Linked DNA regions of Homo sapiens: all the other regions are linked to region 3. Evidence: fine-mapped expression QTL. A gene starts in region 3. Each other region holds a variant in brackets. All regions are shown on one strand. Distances are between the middles of the regions. Region 1 overlaps CREB5 (cAMP responsive element binding protein 5). Region 2 overlaps CREB5 (cAMP responsive element binding protein 5). Region 3 holds the start of CREB5 (cAMP responsive element binding protein 5).

What was found. PIP is the estimated chance that this variant, and not a neighbour inherited with it, causes the effect.
Region 1: its variant is the best candidate, but not a certain one, in a credible set for the expression of CREB5 in monocytes after R848 (Quach 2016, PIP 0.51).
Region 2: its variant is the best candidate, but not a certain one, in a credible set for the expression of CREB5 in blood mononuclear cells (TOPMed, PIP 0.50).

The regions. Positions count from the first base shown.
Region 1 is chr7:28,701,570-28,708,764 of GRCh38, forward strand. The region is part of intron 5 of CREB5 (cAMP responsive element binding protein 5); the gene reads left to right. Among named protein-coding and RNA genes, the nearest start is that of TRIL, 250 kb to the right of the region's middle. RefSeq lists an enhancer at 3,202-3,271. The variant T/G (reference allele first, on the strand shown) is at 3,865.
Region 2 is chr7:28,666,186-28,673,380 of GRCh38, forward strand. All of the region lies in intron 5 of CREB5 (cAMP responsive element binding protein 5), which reads left to right. Among named protein-coding and RNA genes, the nearest start is that of CREB5, 260 kb to the left of the region's middle. The variant AT/A (reference allele first, on the strand shown) is at 3,412.
Region 3 is chr7:28,408,325-28,415,519 of GRCh38, forward strand. CREB5 (cAMP responsive element binding protein 5) reads left to right here and starts at 4,194. Exons shown (of 11, transcript NM_182898.4): 1 at 4,194-4,593. The coding sequence starts at 4,591. RefSeq lists silencers at 586-880, 849-918 and an enhancer at 4,191-4,280.

The sequences.
Region 1 (7,195 bases), 290 kb after region 3:
TCGTCTACAAATCAACTCAAACTAGGGGTATATATTTCTATCTAATAGTCACTTAGAGCTCTTTGAAAAATTACCTAGTCAGAAGGACACCTTCCATTCCAGCTGCCCAAGTTGTTCACATATGACATCAAATGATAGTTATAGTAATGGATAAATTGGAGCATAATTTTTTTGTAATTGCTCCATAAGTAAAAAAATATAATTGATTTTTTACCATCTTCCTTGATCTGGAAGGAATTGTATCAGTTTCCAGGACGTTGTAAAACAAAATATTTAAAGTATGTTTCAAATAATAAAAAGAGAAATACTTAACTTAATAAAGATGTGGAATTCATTTATGAAGACAAATACTGGCTGTGAACCAATAGGCCAAAGAGTCTGCCAGAAGTTTGCTGTAGACAGTCATTCTTGTATGTCCACTCTGCCCTATCACTCTGAAGTTCAATCCATATTAAGAAAATGAATTTTCTCAGCCATGCTAGACTTTGAAATCATTGATTTTGTTTGCTTTGTTTTTGAGTAATATAACAGAAGGTCTTTTTTCAGTTTTCTTCCTTATAAGGAATAGCAGTCCGTGGCACTTATAATTATAGCTCTTTCAGCCTTATTTTAATTAAAGAGGTTTGTTTGGCATATATATTTGATGCTTGGGAATTTTATATAAAAGTTATAGGTTTTGATCCTTCTGGAGAGCTTCAACAACTGAAACCATGGTGAAAATGGAAAGCACTTAACTTTCGTAAGAACACTTGAATGTTTCAGTATTACCCGAAAGCAAAATTATAAGCCTTGGAAAGAAAACATTTCCATTTGGCATTTTCACTTTTGTGCTTGTCAAGAGAAATAGCCTCAGGCTTCAGAAAAGCAGAAAGATCTATTACCAATATCATGAGGCAAGCACTCCGGTGCTCACTTATGTTGGATCAATCTTGTTCACTTCTAGAAGCCTTTCCAACTATGTTATGATGTTCTCCTTTCTGCTTCTCCATCCAGACGGAGCAGTGTCCTCCAGAAAGTAAGCGTACATTTTCCCAATGGTGAAAGGAAACCAGAATGATTTTACCCAAATGCATAGCCCCTGCCTCCAGGGAGATTTGAGACTAATCACAGAGATGGATACTAAACAAAATAACCATACCTATTAATATGTTATTAGAAATAGCATGAAGGAAAACCACAGGGGCCTATGTGACCCTTTAACTTTGTGGTTGCTAGATTTGGCCTTTAATTTGGGGGTCAAAGAAAATTTTAAGAAAGAGATATTTAAAAGGAGACCTAAAGGATGAATGAGAATTTGTCAACAAAAGAGCAGACGGCAAAACCTTCCAGGCAAAGATCAAAAGATGCTTCAAGGCCCTGGGGTGGGAAAGAGTGTGGCACATTCTAGGAAATGAATGGAAGCTTGGGTGGATAGACCCTTTCAAGCCAGGTGGAAAGATAGTACTACAGGCATCAATGAGGTAGAACATATAAAAGATACTGAAAAAACATCCTAAATGCTAAGGAAAATCATGCAAGAATGTTGAACAGGGAAATGTCATGACCAGATCTTTGGTTTATGAAGATCATTCTGGCTACAAGACAGAGTTTGGATAGAAGAAGAGCAAAACTGGAGTCAGAAACTGTTGGAAGAAACCAAGAGAAACAACACTGTGTTTTGGACTAGGATCTTGGCAGTAGGGATGGAGCCAAGTGGATACACTCCAGGTCTATTTTGGGGGTGGAGTGAATAGAACTTGGTGAATGATTAGAAGTACAAGATGAGGAATCTCAAAGTTAATGACTAAATTCTGCTAATTCACTTCTACCAAATATATTTAAGGAAATATGAGGGGAAAGATCTAAAGACGGAGCACTGTACTAGTCAGGGTTCTCCAGAAAAACAGACCAAAAAGAGAGAGAGATATATGGTTTATTATAAGGAATTGACTCACCAGATTATGGAAGCTAAAAAGCCCCATGATCTGCCATCTGCCAGCTGGAGACCCAGAAAAGCAGATGGTGTAAATTCCAATTGGATTCTGAAGGCCTGAGAACCAGAAGCACCAATGGTGTTGCTCCCAGACTAAGGTCAGGAGAAGACAGATGTCCCAGCTCAAGCAATCAGGCAGAGAGAGAGATAACTCAACCTTCCTCCACCTTTTTCTTCTATTCAGGTCCTCAATGGATTAGATGAAGCCCACCCACATTGGGGAAGGTATACTGCATTACTCAGTCTACCAATTCAAATGTTAATCCCTTCCAGAAACAACCTTATAGGTGCACTCAGAAATAATGTTTAACCAGATATCTGGGCAACCCATGGCCCAGTCAAGTTGACATAAAACCTACCATCACAGGCACCATGGACTGGATCATCCATAGGACTCAACCTAGGCACTTAGGGAATGTCATCTTAGCTCTTTAGCAGGTGGTGTCAGGTATCATCTACTATGAAGTAGTGAAATGTTTTTCCTGGCAGACCTGGAGGATTTTCATCATTCTCAAAATGTCCAGTTTAAACCTAGTCCCAATGAGTCTGATGGCTCCAACACTGAAAAGACAGAACTGCTTATTTGGGGACCTGTCCTACCTCTCCTAAAAGATGTCATTGTGCTTACTAATAAATTACTTATTCTAGTGCACAAAGAGTGAAACCTTTATTTCCTGCTCATCCAAAGGATTATTGTTCATATGTGAGAAGAAATGACCTCCTCGCCTACCTGTCACGATTCCTGGTTCCTGCTGCCCTCCTCAGCTAAATGTTACTTGCACTCAGAGATCATTTGAGCCTTTCTTTTGTTCAAGGAAAGGAAAGTCCAAGAACAACCAGTAAGGAATTACTCATCTATATGTGTCCACCTTTGAGGAAAATCTACCTTTAACTGACGTGTTGCTTCCCTGAAATAAATAATAGTTCTGGATCTCTCACTTTTTTTTTTTAAGACAGAGTCTCTGTTTCTGCAGTGACACGATCATAGCTCACTGTGTCTTCAAACTCCTGGGCTCAAGTGATCCTCCCACCTTAGCCTCCCAAGTAGCTAGTACTACAGGCACCCCACCATGCCTGGCTCATTTTTAAATTTTTTGTTAAGATGAGATCTTGCTAAGTTGCCCAGGCTTGTCTGAAACACCTGGGATCAAGAGATCCTCCCGCCTCAGCCTCCCAAAACACTGGGATTACAGATGTGAGCCACTGCACCCAGCCGGATTACTCTCTCTTGATCATATCTACTCATTTAACTTTAGGGTTGAAAAGGCCCTTGAAGATTGTTGGTTCAGCCATTTTTTGTGTGTGTGTGCATGAGGAAACAGAAACTCAGAGGCACTGAGGACACAGCCCTAGATCACCAGGCAAATGACTGGCTGAGTCAGTAGACACTCTTGCTGGTGTATTCATATTCAAAGCCATATCATGCAGGACTCAGTTACTTCACTTTGTCATTTTGTGATCATCAGGTTGACACATCTTAAGAAAGCACAATTTGGCCTTTCTGTTCTGGTCAGGAATCTGAAGAAAAAAACCAAGCTATCGGCTGGGCATGGTGGCTGACGCCTATAATCCCAGCACTTTGGGAGGCCAAGGCAGGCGGATCACGAGGTCAGGAGTTCAAGACCAGCCTGGCCAACATGGTGAAACCTCATCTCTACTAAAAATACAAAAATTAGCTGGGTGTGGTGGCAGCCACCTGTAATCCCAACTACTCAGGAGGCTGAGGCAGGAGAATTGCTTGAACCCGGGAAGCAGAGGTTGCAGTGAGCCGAGATCACTCACCACTGCACTCCAGCCTGGGTGACAGAGTGAGACTCTGACTCAAAAAAAAAAAAAAAAAGAAAGAAAGAAAAGAAAACCAAGCTATCATGACAGACCAGTGAAGGGATTTT[T/G]GGGGGAACACTTACCGCCAGTGAGCAAGCATAATGTTTTGCATGTTCTTTAAGTGTACTGTCAGTCACTTTCCGTTTCTATTTATACTAGGGACTTACTGTCTATAGCTAAAATTGACATTTACTGTGCCCATAACCCTACCACAAATTAAAATCAGACCCCAAGTCCCTCTGGGGAAAATGTTTATTAAGCTGTAGGAAGACATCTGAAATGATACCAAATTGCATTTTAAACTTGAAACCCCAAATACCACATTTGTTTGCAAGTAGGAATAGGACTGTCTGAGGAATCATTTGAGAAACTGAGCAAGTCACTCTCTTTGGCAACATGCAGGGCCACCAGGGAAGAGAAAAGTACCTTAGAAGAAACACTTTATATAAACCCCTTGTGGCTTTTAAGTAATCATTTAAACGTAAACAAAATATTCTTTAGAATGAACTCAAAAGAAAAGTAAGCCTTTTAAAATTCCATGCCTTTAATGAACAGACACAGACATTTCAATTGTACTTATAAATACCCTGAGAAGAGGGTTGAGAGAAATATCGAAATAAAACAAGTCCATTAAAATGTAAACCTGGGTTCCAGAGTTTCTCCTGCTAATACAGGCAAAAGTGTGTTTGAGACAAAAAAAAATCTTCAGCCGGGTGCAGTGGCTTGCGCCTGTAATCCCAACACTTTGGGAGGCCGAGGCGGGTAGATCACCTGAGGTCCGGAGTTCGAGACCAGCTCGGCCAACATGGCGAAACCCCATCTCTACTAAAAATACAAAAAATTAGATGGGCATGGTGATGGTTGCCTGTAATCCCAGGCACTCAGGAGGCTGAGGCAGGAGAATTGCTTGAACCTGGGGGAAAGAGGTTGCAGTGAGCTGAGATCGTGCCATTGCACTCCAGCCTGGGCAACAAGAGTAAAACTCCATCTCAAAAAAAAAAAAATCTTTCTAGCACTTTTGCCCTTTAGGATGTAGGTATCTGTGGGTGTTTGTATGTAGCAGGTGTATTTATGTACATAGATTGGACACAGTGTCAATCTCAGAACCTAATAATGGAATCAATTTTGTCTACAGGGAAGCCATACTCAGTGGTTTCTTTGCTTGTGTGTCCAGTCCATGAGTAGCTTGGAAAATAGCAAAGCCAGGTTGAAAAGCCATTTGAGATCCTTGAATGCAAAGTGTAAAGTACATGCCAAGTATCATTATTATGAGCTTTATTGCTACTATTTTACTAAGTGTTTCAGATTAATATCAATTCTGCTTCATGATAAGTGCTCTTGCAAAGTGGGAGAACTTGCAAGGTAGCTCAGGGAAGGTTGCACAAGAGAGAGCACACAGTTTCCTAGAAACTTCACCCTTCCCCCATACCCCCTGTTCAAGCCAGTGGTAGCTTGACTGTCCCTAGAAATCAGGATAGTGTTTCAAGTTATCATAGCCCTTAAAAAGATGACTGTCATGGATGTGACATAGGGGTATAGCTGCCAGGAAATAAGAGATAGTGGACCATGAGGTAACGTTGTTAAGTCTGTTAAGAAACCTCTGTGGGGCTCCTATTGTGTGCCAAGCTCAGTGCTCTCAAATATTCTCCCTTCAGCCTAGAAGAGAGACTGGTACCTGCTGTAAGGGGTCTGGCATGGAGAGAAAGCCGGCTTCCCTGAGAAGAGGATGGGGGATAACTGGGGACTCACAGTAATGGAGGAGACACCCATACCCCTCGGAGAGGCTGGGTGTTTCTGGGTCTTTTCCCCAAATGCTTCACCCCCAAATTTAGAACAATATAGCTTTACTTTGTGTTTTAAAATGACAGTTGTATTAACTGTATTTTCTACAGCAGATCACTCATCTCTTAAATAGATTATGCATTGATCGTCTTCAAAGGGCTAAGCACACTCAAAATATTCTCTAAAGTCATTCTCATGCCATACCTGTGACATGGATATTACAGCCACGTAGTTTTTGCCAATGAGAAAACAGAGGAGTTAGATGCCTTGCTAAGATCACACACTCCTGGTCGGTGGCAGAGCCAGGAGGCGGCCAAAAGCCTATGCCTGTCAGCCCCACAAGGCTACCTTATTGGATTTCCTGGTTAAGGATGGGAGTCAGCGTTATCTCTATCATTTCTGTCAGCCACTATGTCTGGAATAAGTGACAATAATAGACCTAATTTAGGACTCCGAGAGGTTTGCCAGTTCTTCCTCCTTCTCCCTAGAAAGCAAGTCAGACAGGGACAAGTCTATTTTTTAAGAGCCCAAGAAGAGGAAATTTCAAAATCTCTATTAGCCATTTAATTGTTTTACACTATTTGTTCTTGGGAGATATTCTTTTCTAAGTTAAATCCACATGCTGCTGATGTACTGTTACTATTCTGCTTCAGTTGTGTTTGAAAGTAACTGGTGACCATTCTCAGATTATAGTAATTTGCAACTTTGAAGATCATCATCATTATCTGCCAGCCTTCTCTAATGTCTCCCCCATGGGCTAAAGAAGTCTTATTTCCTTTACTTTTCCCATTAAGTCTTCCCTTCCGGCTTTTTAGTATTTTCTCATGCTTCTCTGGAACCTTCTCCAAATTCTCCACACCTCCCCCTTCTCCCCATGATGCCTGACAAGGATCCCTTTGGGAATCCTCACTCTGATCCCAGGGTTTTTGGTGATTTGATCACAGCGGTGATTGAGATAGAGCCTGAAGCTCTCTGTTAGGATATAACCCAGTGAAGAGTTTGCTCAGCCTTGTTAGGCAATGCCCCTTTCCTTGTTCATGTTTCCTTGGAGAATAAGTGATCCTCTCAGCACGCTATCACTTTATCATTAAGAATAGAACTTGAGAAATCAGGCTTTTAGCAGCCCAAGGTTGCATAGTCCATGCATGTAGTCACAGCTGCTGAAAACCACTCCCTCTGGGCCACCGACACATCCCTCCCCTGCCAATGTATCGTGGAGCTAATAAATTCTAGCGCTGCCTTTTAAAGAGCTGAAATAATCCCAGCGAGTGGCTGGGTGGAGGGTGTCATAAATTTGGTCTCCCAGGAGAGATATTTGAAAACTGCCGAAGAGACCCTGCCTTGAGATTCGAGAAAAGGTGAAATAAGAGCATGAGTGAGGGCAGCAGTGAATCGAAGAGCCTTGCAGGAGGCACGGGATAAGCAGAGGCTGCCGGGAAGATCCAATAGATCTTTTATAAGAGTTCTGTTTTCATGGAAGTCTCTTGCTGCTGGAGCTATTGCCATTCAGCTGCAAAATTCCGTCATCTATTTGGAATATAGATATTGGAAGATTGTGCTAGGTGTGGATTCCACCACAGATTATTCGTTAAAATACACTAACTGACAAGCTCAAAC
Region 2 (7,195 bases), 260 kb after region 3:
GCTCTGTCCCTCTGTGTGCTCAGCAACACCATTCAAGCTACAAAACACCTTAGGGATATTTAATGTTCTGTGCCCACCCCTTATAAATGTATATGACTCAATATCCCCAATGAGTAATGTGGCCAGCAGCCATACCACCTTCAGCTAAGCTCTCATAAGCTGAACAGGGTTGGGCTAGATCCCTGTTCTTATGAGAGACCTCCAAAGAAACCCTGGAGGTGTCAGTGATGATTCAGTGGGTAGTTCCCTGACTTGAGTCAGTCCCAAATCACTTTCCTTTCCTGATGTTAACGGATCCTTTACATATGCAGGTGCGGCTTTTTTGAGAATCAGTCCAAACCCTGTTTACTTTTAAAATATATATATTTTTTATTTAAAATAAACGCCATGGACCAGATAGCCCAAAGAAAGGGAAGAGGAAAAGAAAGGGTACAACAGAACAGGAGAAAATGGATACATTGCAAGCTAAATCCCACTTCAACAAACTTTGTCAAACTTGGGCATGGTGGTTCACGCCTGTTATTGCAACTACTCAGGAGGCCCAGGCAGGGGGATCAGGATCACCTGAGCCTAGGAGTTCAAGACCAACCTGGGAAAATAAAAAATAAAAAAATTAGCCAGGAGTGTGTCCCAGCTACTTGGAGGCTGAGGCGGGAGGATCAATTGAGCTCACTTGAGTTCAAAGCTGCCGTGAGCTATCATTATGCCACTGTACTCCAGCCTGGACAAAAGAGAGAGACCCTTTCTTAGGAAAAAAAAAAAAAACCTCAAAATGATTTCCCTAGTTATTTGATTATAGTGGAGCTTGCTTGTCACAAACTTTGCTTGGATCAAATAGGTCACCAGCGACAAGACTTGGGGATCTGCTTTTTTGTGAAGAGTGAAACGAGGACTGATGCTCTTGGAATCATGTAGAAAATTCTGTCTGACCGTGAACAAGCCACTGTAAACAAATCCGAAAGATATACACCTTCAAACAGTTCTCAGATGCATGCTGTCCCTGGGTGGGGCTGTTGAATCCCACTGTGGGAGCTGGAATGTCAATCAGAATTATCAAGGATACTATTTATTGGCATGAGTGTGTTCTTGTAAGCACTTACCCTTCCTATCTAGTTGCTCGAAACTGCCAGCAAGTTTTGTTTGGGGCAATTAAAATGCTATGTGACCCCTTAGAAATTTCTGTCTTGAGGGTGTTCAAATTTTTAAAGATACAGAATATTTTGAGGTTTTGGAATAAAAAGCACTTGTTAATATATAAAAGAAACTGTGGGCATATTTCCTTTCTTCCATGAAATACGCTTAGCCTGCTTATATCCTTTTTAAACCAAGGATATGAATAAATCTGCCCAAATATTTTCTTTGGGATGGGAATCATTCTCTAAGTAGATGATGTTTTAAAAAAATAAAAGAGAGAAAAGAAAAAAAAGATGAAACCGTTAAAAAAGAAAACTTCTTGGTGTTATATAAGAACTCATTCTGTTTATTTGTAAACTCACAAAATGTTTCTAAGTTTGCAAATAAAAATTTTTCTATACAACCATTTTTGAAGCCGAATCCAGCCTGTCTCCTTAAAATGACAAAGCCGAGGAAACGAAAACAAATACCTGTTTAATGGACTCGAAATTAGTCCACATTTATACTTTTCTTTGAGAAATATGTTAGACTGAAAAATATGGCAAGTGGTTAATATTTGGTTCTTATTAACAAAGTTTTCAAACTTTTGCTTTGCCTTTAAAAAGGAGAATATTTACATTATGTGAGACAATTTAAAGGTTTAAAAAATGCACGTCTGCCTTTCAGTCACATGAAGTTAATCATACTTCTTCTTGCATAATTTCCCCAGCCTTGAGTACTACAGAGTTGTATACAAAAATCACACATTTTCATAAACCAATCTATAGTTAGGTTGTACCACGTTTAAGTCTCTTATAAACTCTACTTGTTTCAGGACTCATTGTTATGAGGACACGGAAAGAAACTTCATGAAGTTTCCCTTCCCAGGTCTAATGCATGACCTCACTTTATGCTGTTCAGTTTTTATTAAATTCTTTGCTAGCTTAATGCTAAAAGATATATAAGAAAACTAATAAAAAGAGTATAGCATCTTTTAATTGAAGGAAAAAATGAGTGCTTTGCATTCCAAAATGAAGGGTCATATATTCTTTTCCATTGTCTGGGTTTTGTAAACATCTCTGGACATGTCAAAGTTTATTTCTCATTATTTTAGTAATTACTTTTATTATATGTTTGTAACTATACAGAATCCTATTTTAATTATGCAACTGTGAGTGTGGTTTTATACGATGACAAAAGAATTGCTATGGCCAATGAAATATATGTTTTCCTGTAAAGTTTATGTTACAACAAAAAATACTGATTTAATCTTTAATATAGTAAGGAAGGGAGAAGGAAGTATGTACAAAAACCAAAACAAAATGAGTTCACAAAGGGTTAGGTTTTCTTCTAAACAGATTTGGATGAAAATAGGTTTTATTACATTGAAAGCAACGGGGAGTATTTTAGGTAGGAACTATCTGGTTCTTTGATATTATTTCTATAATTTCAGTCTGTATTAGAATCAGATCATATTGTTAGGCCTCAAGCGTGCCATGGCATTCAGTTTTACCGGTGAGTGAGAGTGTGAAGTTTCATGTCAAATTCATCACAATGCTCTGTCCACGGCCCGCTGCTACCCTCCTCTTTCAGAGGCTGGGGCCCTCTTGCTGACCCTCAGTTCTAGACCTTGTCCTTTCACTCTGCCCTGCTCTGAGGCCCCGTGTAGTGGTATCCTTCCCAGTATGCAACACGAGAAAGGCACCAATACTGTGCATCAGAAATTCTTAGTCAAGAAAGAACACATCTGGCTTGAGGTACCAGGAACCCTTTCTTGCAATGAAAACATTTGATATGGGTCTCATAGAAACTGCAGAACTATGAGCTGTGAAGGATGTTTCAAGTTGAAGGATCAGCATTAGCAAAGTTGTAGATGTAGGGAAGATCAAGATGTATTGAGAAAAATCAAACATGTCCAGTTTGGTTCTAGCCAAAACTTACAGGGTACGTGTTGGTAAATAGTGGCAGATGATGCTAAAATATAGGATGTGACCAAATAACTAGGCAACGTTTACTTTGATTTGTTAGCAATTGAGAGCTTGTGTTTTGAGCAAGGGAATAAAATGATTAAAACCCCTTTATGTTTGTGTCCTGGATTGGTTCCTGGAAATGAAATTAGTGAAATAAACTAATCCAAATAAAGCCTGAAGCTAAGTTAATAGTACTGTACCAGCGTCAATTTCTCAGTTCTGGTAAATGTACCGGGGTTGTGTAAGATGTTACCATGAGGGGAAGCTGGTGGAGGGCATACAGGAAGGCTCTGCTCTAGGCTTACAACACTTCTGAAAATCGGAAGTT[AT/A]TTCAAAATAAAAAGAAACAGCAACAACAAAACACCACTGTGGGACTCTATCTTCAACACAGGACCATCACATCAAGGGCAACAGGGGACGGCTTGGCTGATTTTTATAACAGTGGCTACAAGCCAAGCTCATAGAAGTAAAGCATTTACTGTTTTACCGTAAGCTCTGGAAGTCTGTTTCCTGTGTCAAGAATCTTTGTTGCTGTAATTTCACCTGCTCCTAGGATCTGCGTCGTCCTGTGCCCTGCCATAAGGATGTAACTCTCAGCTCAAAGCCAAGGGCTGCTCAAGGGACAGACACACCAGGCACAACAAGGGGAGCCCCCGCTACCTTGGGCTTCTCTTCTTGCTTTCTGTACCAATTCTCCTGCTGTCACTATCCCCTTTGACCGTGTTCTCATGTTCTCTGCCACATGCGAGAGAAAGTAAAACGTTTTTGAGACCAGTTGGTACATGGTCTGAAAAGTGCTTGCAATAATTCTCCCTGTCTACAGGGGACACTTTTCAAGACCCCCAGTGGATGCCTGAACCTGTGATCATACCGAACCCTCTATATACTGCTTTTTCCTATCCGTGCATACCTATGATAAAGTTTAATTTGTAAATTAGGCACAATAAGAGACTAACAACAATACCTAATAATAAAGTAGAACCATTATAGCAATATACTGTGATAAAAGCTATGTGAAGGTGGTTTCTCTTTCTCTCTCAAAATATCTCATTGTACCGTACTCACCTGTTTTCTGACTGCAGTTGACTGCAGGTAACTGAAACGGCAGAAAACCAAGCTGTGAATAAGGCAGGGCTACTATATTTGAGCTCATTGCCTTTTAGTCGGTGATTTTAAATGTATCTCTCCGTTAAGACCATTTACCTGAATTTGGGCTACTGTGTTTCCATCATTAGGAATGTTTTCTGTAGTCATTAATGCAGACTAAGAGAAGCTGACACTTTACCCCAAAATAATATAAACATATTTCATCTATGACTACTTTGATACAGAGTACGGCATAAGGGGATATGTAGCTTATATGAGGAAATTGTCTTAAGTTTGTCTTTAATTCTACATATCTCCCATGTGCCATCTAAAAAGCCTGGAACTATAAATCAATACAAGTCAAAACAAAGAAGTTCACTAATATGAAAATATATAGGCATGTGCATGTTGGTACAGTGTGTATTCTTTCCACAACTCTGTAGTAGCCTGCTTTGTTGAGGAAGTTACCATTACATTTCTTTAAAACAATTTGTAAAGAAATCCATTTCCCTTTCTTTTTAAATAGAGACAGGGTCTCACTATGTTGCCTAGGCTGGTCTCGAACTCCTGGCCTCAGGCAATTGCACTTGGCCACACACTTTTTGATAATGGACTGTTGCAGAAAATATAACTGTGGCGGAGAGTGGTGACTTCATGCCTGTGCTTTGGGAGGCTGAGGCGGGAGGATCGCTTGAGGCAAGGAGTTCGAGACTAGCCTGGGAAACATAGCAAGACCCTGTCCCTGCAAAAATTTTTAAAAATGAGCAGGACAGGCCTGTAGTCCCACCTACGTGGGAGGCTGAGGTGGGGAGGACTGCTTCAGCCTGGGAGGTCAAGGCCGCAGTGAGCCGTGATCTCACCACTGCACTCCAGCCTGGGTGACAGAGTGAGACCCTGTCTCAAAAAGAAAAAAAAAAAAAAGTGTGTACTAAATTGGTTGAGTTTTTTTAGTGACATTTATTGTCAAGTGAGTTCAGACATTTCCTATTTAAAAATACGTTTCCTGCTTTCTATGATCTCTTCCCAGAAAACTGAGGTTCTCTTATCGCTTGCTTTAGCATAAGCATAATTTTGGGTAACTTGGGTGACTCTTAGATGTTGCTAGTTCAACTAGAACACAGCAATCCTAATTTTTCAGACTGGGGAGAAGCAAGAGACTTTGGCCTTTTTCCCTGTCTCAGGTACCTCATCTAAAATTCTGGTGGGACTTGGGTTGCTTAGTCGCCAGTCAACATGTGAAGGTTACAACCAGACGGAGAAACCAAGAAAGACGAATTGAGCCTTTCAGTTCTTATTTGTTTTGTTTAGTGGCCTCAAAGAAAAAGCAACAAGGTGTGGTGGATTAGAGTATGAACACATCAGTCAACTGCCTGAGTGTGTGACTGGACTCTGCCACGTGCCAGCTGTGTGACCTTGGGCAAGTTACTTCACCTGTCTGAATTTTTGTTTCCTCAACTGTAAAAGAAAGATAAAAATAGCCAGATTTACTTTTAGAATGTGAAGAGACCTTACAGATTAGCTCTTAGTACATTGCTTGGCATTTAGCAAGGACTTTCTGGTTAGCTCTTATTTTTATTATAATAATTATTATTACACTTTCTTAATCTTTTTTACCTTCAAAGTTTCAACCATGCACTTAATGCCTGTGAGCTTTACACCTTAAAAAGATTAAAATGGTAAATTTTGTTGTTACGTATATTTTACTACAATGAATTAAAAAACAAGTTGCAATCATCCCAAACAATTAAATACAAAAATCACTTTCTAAAATAAAACAACACACATTCAGGACACCAGACAAGGAGATCAGTTGTATTATGGAAAAAAAAAAAAAACACACACACACACACACACACACACAAACACTGGACTAGGTTTTAAAAGACCTGGGATCTAGTTAATAAATCTGTGTTCTTGACCAAGTCATTACACCTTTCTAATCTCAGCTTTCTCCTTGGGAAAAGTTTTAAGAAGATTAAAGGAGATAACAGATTGCTTTGTAACACATATAAATTGGTATTATTGTGGCTAGAGTCCCTATTGCTTTTTATCTGCTTCTAAGAACAGATCCAGGATGTTGTACAGAACTGCAGAAAAAAAAAATGCTCTTTTCATAATGCATTTATTTGGTTACAAAAACATCATGGCATTTAATAACGTACTATAAAATAGGCTCTGATAAACTCTGATTGACAGAGACTGGCTGTCTTGACCTGGTTAACGGGAAATGCCCTGGGCCTCAGACCCAAGGCTGACATATTGTTCAGTTTCACAGCTTCCACTCCCCAGCCCAAAGCCAACAACGAATTCAGGGAAATTACTGGATGAGACCTCCCCTACAATCCAGAGATACCAGCCCTCCCAGTGCTGTCATAGAAACAGCTCTGAATTACTCAGAAGGGGGTCTGGAGTGGTTGAGCAAGCAAGCAGCTTAACTTCTCCCTAGTTCAGTTTTTTCACCTGCAGAATGAGGAAATTTGGACTTTAAAATTTTCATGCTCCAACACTGTGTGAGATTGTATTAACAAAGTACTTTGAAAATTTTAGGGTATTTTCCTGTTCTTTTTCCATAAATTTGAAGTAACCATTATGGCATTTGGCCTCTTAGATTACCTTGAGTCCCCTGGACCCCAGAAACCACCCGCCCCATACCTTACCTCTACTGCCCTTTTCTAAGTCAGTGTAGGCCATCTTCTGGGGAGGGAAGGATTGATTTAGACCCAGTGCCACTACTGTTGAGCAAAATTTGGATTTACCCAGAGTAATACAAGGATTTTCAGAAACATCCACAATTTAGCGTTTAAATCTTAAAATGTATTAATTGGTGTTTGCAATCTGGGATATTGAATTTCTCAAATCTTCCATTTGTTTGTATACTCAGGGCCTTTTGGGTCTAACACAATGGCTATCATCACACATTCTAAAAGGACCTCCCCATTTTAAAACCTGTCCCAGGATACCTGTTTTCACAGATGGAGAAAAATCCAGAAAGCATCTGCTCCTATTGTCCCCTGGAAAGCAGCTCT
Region 3 (7,195 bases):
TGGTCGTCTAGAATCGGGCTGGATTTAGCCTATGCCTTCTCTTTGAATCCTACTCAAAGGGAGAACTTCTGAAAGGAAATTCAGCAGGGGGATGGTGACAGTGATGGTGACGGCCGGATACTGGAGACGCCAGGCTCCTCTCGCTGCAGACCAGGCGCCCGGATCCTGCAGTCTGGCCCTGGCTCTGCCGCTCCCCAGCCCGTGAGCTTGGGCCAGTTACCGAAGAGGCTCTGGAAGTGACAGCCAAGGGCCCTTTCGGCTCTGACGCCGTGTCTAAATCAGGCTCATCACTTGGCTCTAGCTGTGATTCACCTTTCGCCTTAGGAGCAACTCTCCCTACAGCTTCTCAGACGCATGAAGCAGGGGTCCCGCGAAGGGTGGGGCTGTGTATTTCATGAGAGTGTGCACCATAAGGAAGTTATTCTCCTGGAGGAGGTGAGATGAGGGGGCGGTGAAGAAGGGGTGACAAGTGAGTGCTCTGAAAAGCCAGGATGCAGGGAGCACTGAAATGAGGTCATGACTGTCGCAAGCAAAAAGGAGCTGGACATCCTCCGGTGGGGGAGGGAGGAGCGTCCTGCATTTCTGTTTGCAAAGTCTTTTCCCACATCCTTCAGCATCCCCCTCCCCACCTCTCCCCTACCCCCATCCCTACACCTTTCAAACCCCATCAGGCCCTCCCCGCAGAAGAGCCCACGCCCGCGCCTCCTCCGTGGTCTTGTCTGAAACCATAAGGATTGTTTCCAAGCTGACTCACACCACTAATGTCAGGGAGCCGTGTCACACGGCGCTGGGCTCTGCAAGCTGTTGCTTGCGCAGTCGCCCCCGCCGCTGCCGCTCCCGGGCGGGTGCACCAGGGTCCGCGCGGGCGGGGCGGGGTCGGGGCGGGACCGGGGCGGGGCCTGCCCCCTCGACGCGCCGGCCCCGCCCCTCGCTCCGTCCCTCCCCAGCGGACCGCAATGATTTAGAAGTTCAGGAATCCCACGTGACGTCACCGGGGGGGTGATGTAATGCACTCTAAATAGAATGTATTGTAATCTTTGCTCAGTCCAACGTGGTCCCTTCACCCGGGCTCCGCTCTTGCCTTCTCCACACTTGTTTGGTAAGTTCCTAAAAATACGGCTCGGCCACTTCTGGGGCTTTTGCATTTAGCCACTTTTGTTGCACTTGCCGCAGGAGCCATCTCGGGAGTGTACTTGTTTGCAGGGGTTGGTTCTCGGCAGCAGCCGCGAGGTTACTTGGTCCAGTGGGCAGGTCACAGGGCAAGGAGTAGGGAAGATGCGATGCATTTTTTTCTGGAGGGTGATCTGTGTTTGTAAACATTTTGGCGGACCAGAGGGAAGTCCGGCCCCGAGTGCTGGTAGACTGTGGAATTCGGCTGTGTCCTGAGGCCACCCTAGAGACCCCGCGCCGCGTGAGTGCCGGAGCGCTCGGTGGCCGCCGCGCCGCGCGCCTGGAGGGATGCTAACGTGGAGCCGGCGCCGAGTCCGCCCGGCGTGCGTGCGTGTGTGGGAGCGCGCGAGTCCCCTGACGCGGGGACCAGTTATGAATCGGGGGTGTGTGTTTGCCTCCAGAGACCTGGCAAGGTGCGGAGCCCTCCAGAAGTGCGGTCAAGCGGCAGCGGAGACGGCGAGCCAGGAACCTCCCCCCGCGTCCCCAGCTTCCCAGCGTGGCGGCGGAACCCCCGGAGAAAGTTTGCAAACTTCCAGCGGGCGCGGCGAGGACGCCGGGTCACCTAGGGGGCGGGTGGGCGCGCGCGCAGGGGGCTCGCTCTCCCCGGTGCGGAGCTGCAGCTGCCACCTCTCCCGCCGGGCTGCCGGCTGCAGCGGGTGGGCGCGCGCCCGGGGAGGGGAGGTCGCCCTCGGAGGGCGCTTGGCTTTCGCTCCAGGCGCTCCGGGCTGGAGAGCGGCGAGGCTCCGTCCGCTCCAGTCCACTCCTCCGGCCGCCTCCTGCCTCCGCTGCTTTCTTGCTGGCATCGTTACCTCTTCCCGGCCGCTGCCCCAAATGACAGCTCCGGCTCGAGCTTTGGCGGCGCCCAGGCAATTCCCAAGACCTGGCGGCGGAGTCTCCCCCTGCGGCAGATTCTCGGCAGAATCACTTGAACTTTTCACGAAGTTCTTAGAGGGGCAAGATGCGAAGGAAGGAACCAAGGAGATGTTTTCTCTCAGCAGCTGCATCCCGCTTCTTCTTTGCCATAGATTTATTTTTAAGGGGCGTCTGGTAGATAAAGCCCTAGACCTTGTCCACACTCTCACCCCCATCCCCAACTTTCCCTGGACCGGTGCCGCCCCCACTTGATGCTTGCTCAAGGCCGGGGACTGGAGCGGGCTACTTGTATATTTCGTTGTCAGTCTGCAGAATGTGTTTGATTTTTATTTTTCCCTCCTTCTCTGACATGTGTCAAGGAATAAAGACTGGATACAGGTCCATTACGTCATTCTGCAGGCCAGTAAGTGTTTGATTAACGGCTTGAGCTCCTCAAGGGTTCAGGAGCTTAGAATGCTGACAAAGCAACTCTGCTTTGCATCCCCCTACCCTCCCCACAACACACTCGTGCAATCGCCGGCTCCCTGGGCATCTTTATTGCCCTCTCTTCCCAGCCCCTCCCTCTCCACCACTCCCCCGTCTACACCGTTATCACTCTAGCCCCGCCCCCGCCTTTTTACAGCTTTCCCTGGGGCGAGCACGGTCCCTGGAGTGTGGGTAAAAGCTTCTGGGGTCTGAGGGGACCACTGTACCTGATCAGCGCGCAATCCGCCCTTTTGTATTATTTAAGAAAGGCACCAGTAAGCCTTCTCCTCTAGGGCGAAAATGCTTAGTCCTGATAGAAAAGGCAAATCAGGAAATGTTTGCAAGCGTTATGATAATACTCTGTCCTCGTGGTGGTGACTTAGGAAAGCAATACACCCACTGCAAACAAAGTATTTCACTTTACGTAGTGCCTGCCCTTTAGCAGAAGAGGGATGCTGACAAAATCAGGTTTAGCTGAAAGGATCAAGACTAAACGTTTCATTTCCAAAGTGAGGGAATGTGAGTCGTTGAACCTAAACTTCCATACAATAAATTGCTGCGTGCGTTAGTTTCTAGCTCTTAACCTTAAGTTTCTATGTTGAAAGAGGAAGTCGAATACGTAAGTCATTGAACTGAGTCAGAACCTCCGTATCTGGCAGTTGAAATAAAGACCCTGTGTATGACTTGTTGCAAGGGATCAAAGTAAAAAGAACCCTCGGTGTGGGGGGTGGGGGGGTGGGGGCGTGAGGGAGGTGTGCAGCAGAAATTAAATTTAAAAAAGTATTAACAGAGTTTTGGATAGAGGGAGAGAGGGGATTGGAGTGGTCCCTGATTTGGAGTTGGTGAAAACTAAATAAAGAAAAGTTTATATTGCAAATATGTGGGAATTTCTTGAAGAACACATGTTTTCTTATAATTAGATCTACTTTCTTCAAAGCGAAAGCCATGCTGTAGGGTAGGCATTTGTGAAACTCCTGTCTGGGGTCTAATTGACATCCTTCCCCAAGTCTGTGGCAGGATTTAGTATTTATTCACATCTAGAGATGAAATAGTGTAACCTCCACACAATATATGTGCATCGAAAATGTTGAACTTCTTGTTTGTGATGCATAGACTTAAAGGAAAAAAAATGGCCCAGTCATGGGCACTGGAAAGTGTGATTAATGATCAGTGATTTAGTGATCAGTGATTAGTGGTTTTATTCAAACTGTTACCTCTGACCAGAAGCACACATCAGAGGATTAACAGGCTCTTTAGATAAATGCTCATTAGTGGAAGGGGAAAAGCAAAGATAATAGGCATGCACCCAGGGACAACTTTCGAAGAAAATCATTCCCGTCTTCAGAATAATAAGCTCTATTAACAGAAAGCCCTTTTAATTTAAAACTTGCTTTTATCTTGTAAATCAAAGTTAGATGTAAAAGTTTGTAGTGCCATTATAACCTAAATTTTCCCATATCCACTAGATGTGGATTATCTCAGTAGCGATATTTTTTTTTATTTAAACAAACAATTGGACCTTTAGAGCAGCTGAACCCTGACAAGTTCTTAACTCCCAGGGTTTGAAAGTGTCCCCCCTTCTAGCATGGAGATTGCAGCTTGCTAACTAGATGGCGCACTGTTATTTGGTGTTCTCTGCTGCGTAGCGCAGGAGTATAAACTGAGCATGTAGCTGCTTGCGAGGTGTTCTTCAACATTTACAACAAAGTTGATTCTGTGTAGGGTTGGAGGCTAGACAGTTCCACAAATTTTTAGTCACATTTTCCATGTCAGTTAAATCTAGGGAGTTCAAGACTACTGGAAAAATTAGTCTCATTACTAAAAGAAACTTAGAGAACGAGGGAGGTACCAGAGTCTAGGAGGTACCTCTGGGTTGCAGAAGTAATTGTAAAATACCAGACCTGTTCTTTTTACTAAAAGCTAGTTTCACTATCTTCTGGTCTGAAATACTGAGGCAAATACTCAAGACTTATTTTCTTCCTAATCTTGCTGGTGAAACAGAAGTTACTAGAAAGAAAGGAAGAAAAAACTTGATTTGGTGACTGCAGGAAGCAACACGTTGCTGCTTTTATTCTACAGATAATGGTAAGGATGATGTTTATTATGCATATTAAACAGAGAGAAAACTTTGCACTTAGTTAAATAGAACCAATGTTGTATTTTCATAGATGGAATTCAGAAATGGAGTTTAGATTTTGCACAAAATTTTAATGTTGCTTTTGTCAGTTTCCTGGGACTTATAGCATTTTATGTGGAAGGATGTGTGTGTGTGTGTGTGTGTGTGTGTGTGTGTGAATAAGACTATTATTTCCCAGGTAAAATATGTTCAGAAGCATATGAACTACAGTGGGGAAGCTATGGAGCATGTTAAGTAATGTGTCAAGCATGAATTCCCCTTTCTGTGAGGTTTCATGAATCACTTCAATAAGTATTTAAGTTTTAATAAGAAAGTTCTTGAAAAAGAAACCTAAAAATTAAAAAAAAACAATAAAACAGTTTTCCGCATTCAAACCTAGATGTGTATGCCCCTGAAGGATGATTCTATGGGTTGAATATCAACTATTACTTTAGTTCTAAAACTTAAAAGAAGAAGTATAATAAAACTCACTTGTGTCTCCCCAGAAATGTTTCTCATTTTCCTTTGCTTATAGCATTTTATATGGATCTCTTATTTTTAAATCCTTACTGATTATAGTGGTTTTTATTTTTCAACTTAACTCATAGTAAACATATTTGAAAATATCTCCAAGCCCACTATTTTTAATGTAAATTGCTGGTGCCGATAAATTGCCTGTCAATTAGCGGTCAGTCGTGACCTTATATAGTTGATACCTGAGAAGATAGTTTATTAGAACATTCCAACAAAAAATTGGAAACCATGCCCTTATTTCTAGATCTCTGTTATGTCACAGCTTTTATTTGAATAGGTGGCTAAATGAATGGTAGTTTGTCACAGAGACTTTTCCTGCATAGATTTTCAATTCTAGTAAGTTTAAGATTTTTGTTACAATGATTTGTCAGTTTCCCACACCTGCACATTCAAAACCAATCAATCATGGAGTTTCCATGATGGCAAGTTCCTAGACTCCCAATTTCTTACTATAATCTACTTTTTAGCAATGAGGTATCACAATCCTATAATATTTTCTTGTCATTGGAGTTTACTTCTTACTAAGCTAAAAATTATTTTGTCGGTGTGTAGTGTTCACTAGATCACTAAGATGTGAACTTTGTATTTGTAGTTCATTTTCTTCTGGTTATGTTGTTGGATTAAAATTGGGATTTGAGTGGACTTATTATTTTTGTCATCTTTTCTTTCTTCTCCTTCTCCTTCTCCTTCTTCTTCTTCTAAGCAATGCAGTTAGTCACAAAATTAATGTGATCCTGGCTGGTGTTTCCCATCTATATGCTTCTTTTGCTTCTTACAAATTGGATTTCTACAGCAATTTAAGGTCTTTTTTTTTTTTAGAGGCAGCTTTCTTGGATGAAGATGGAACAGTGATCTCAGTCAATTCATTATCTTGTCCACTTTGACTACCAGCTGTATTATGGGAATCAACCAATGCTTAATTAGTGTTTAAAAATTTAAATCTATGACTATTTCTCTGAATTCTATTTAAGAAAATTATACAATTGAGATAAGGTAATAAACTGGGGGGCAATTGCCTTAAATATCTAAGTGTGAGGAAGAAGCACTTTCAGATATGCTAAACAGACTTAAAGACACAGAAGACCCTTTTTGTGTTGCTATTTGTAAAATAAGTAAGCTATCTATTTTGTGGCAATGCTTTAAATACAAAGTCTGGCACTTTAAAAATGACATCATGTTTAATGTTTTCACTAAAGAATTATTACATTTCGTAATTAGGAAAAAAATGAGCAATTAGTGTTTTTTGAGTATCCATTAGTATTCCATTGTTGAGAATCACAAATCATAGATTTAACATAGGAATTTTTTTTTTTATAAAAAGAGAGAAGCCTTTTAGAAATTTCCAGATAGTGATAGCACTCTTCCAGAAACCCCACTAAAATTTTTGAAGCTCTTATTGAGGACTCTGGGACTGTCACAGTAAAAGATAAAGTTTAGGATAAATTCTTGAACCCATAAAAGATATTATATTGACATTTCAATATTTCTTTTTTCCAAGTTCACTGTATTGCCTTCCCCCTCACCCCCTGAGAAATAGATCAGAATCAGTTTATCACTTTAAAAATATGTATTTCAGCTGCTTTCTTCTATTTCCTTAAGGTTACATTTCTGATCTTAACCCTAAAAAGATTTTAGGATTTCAATCCTTAACAAGGATTGAAAACTACCAGGCTGGCGTTTGACTAGAACTGATTTTAGAGGGAGTTCTTTTAGGCCTAGAGATTCTGATGGTGAGTTACAAAGGCTTATGGCTTTACACGGATGGTAGGGCTAGGGGAGGGCCTCGGATTGATAGACCAATTTTTCATTTTACAGAAGAGACCCCTGGCTCACCCAAGGCCCAGAGCTAGAGAGAGCCAAACCAGGCTGAGAAGCCTGGTCCCTGCCTCCAGGTCGGGTGCTCCTGCCATAAATGCCCTTGTCAGGAATGGGGCATAACCTATGACTTTGTATCCTTCACTCTTTTCAAGCCTTTTGATGACTAATCTTTCAAAGACAAATTTTTATCAGATCTTTGGAATGAACACCTTAATCATA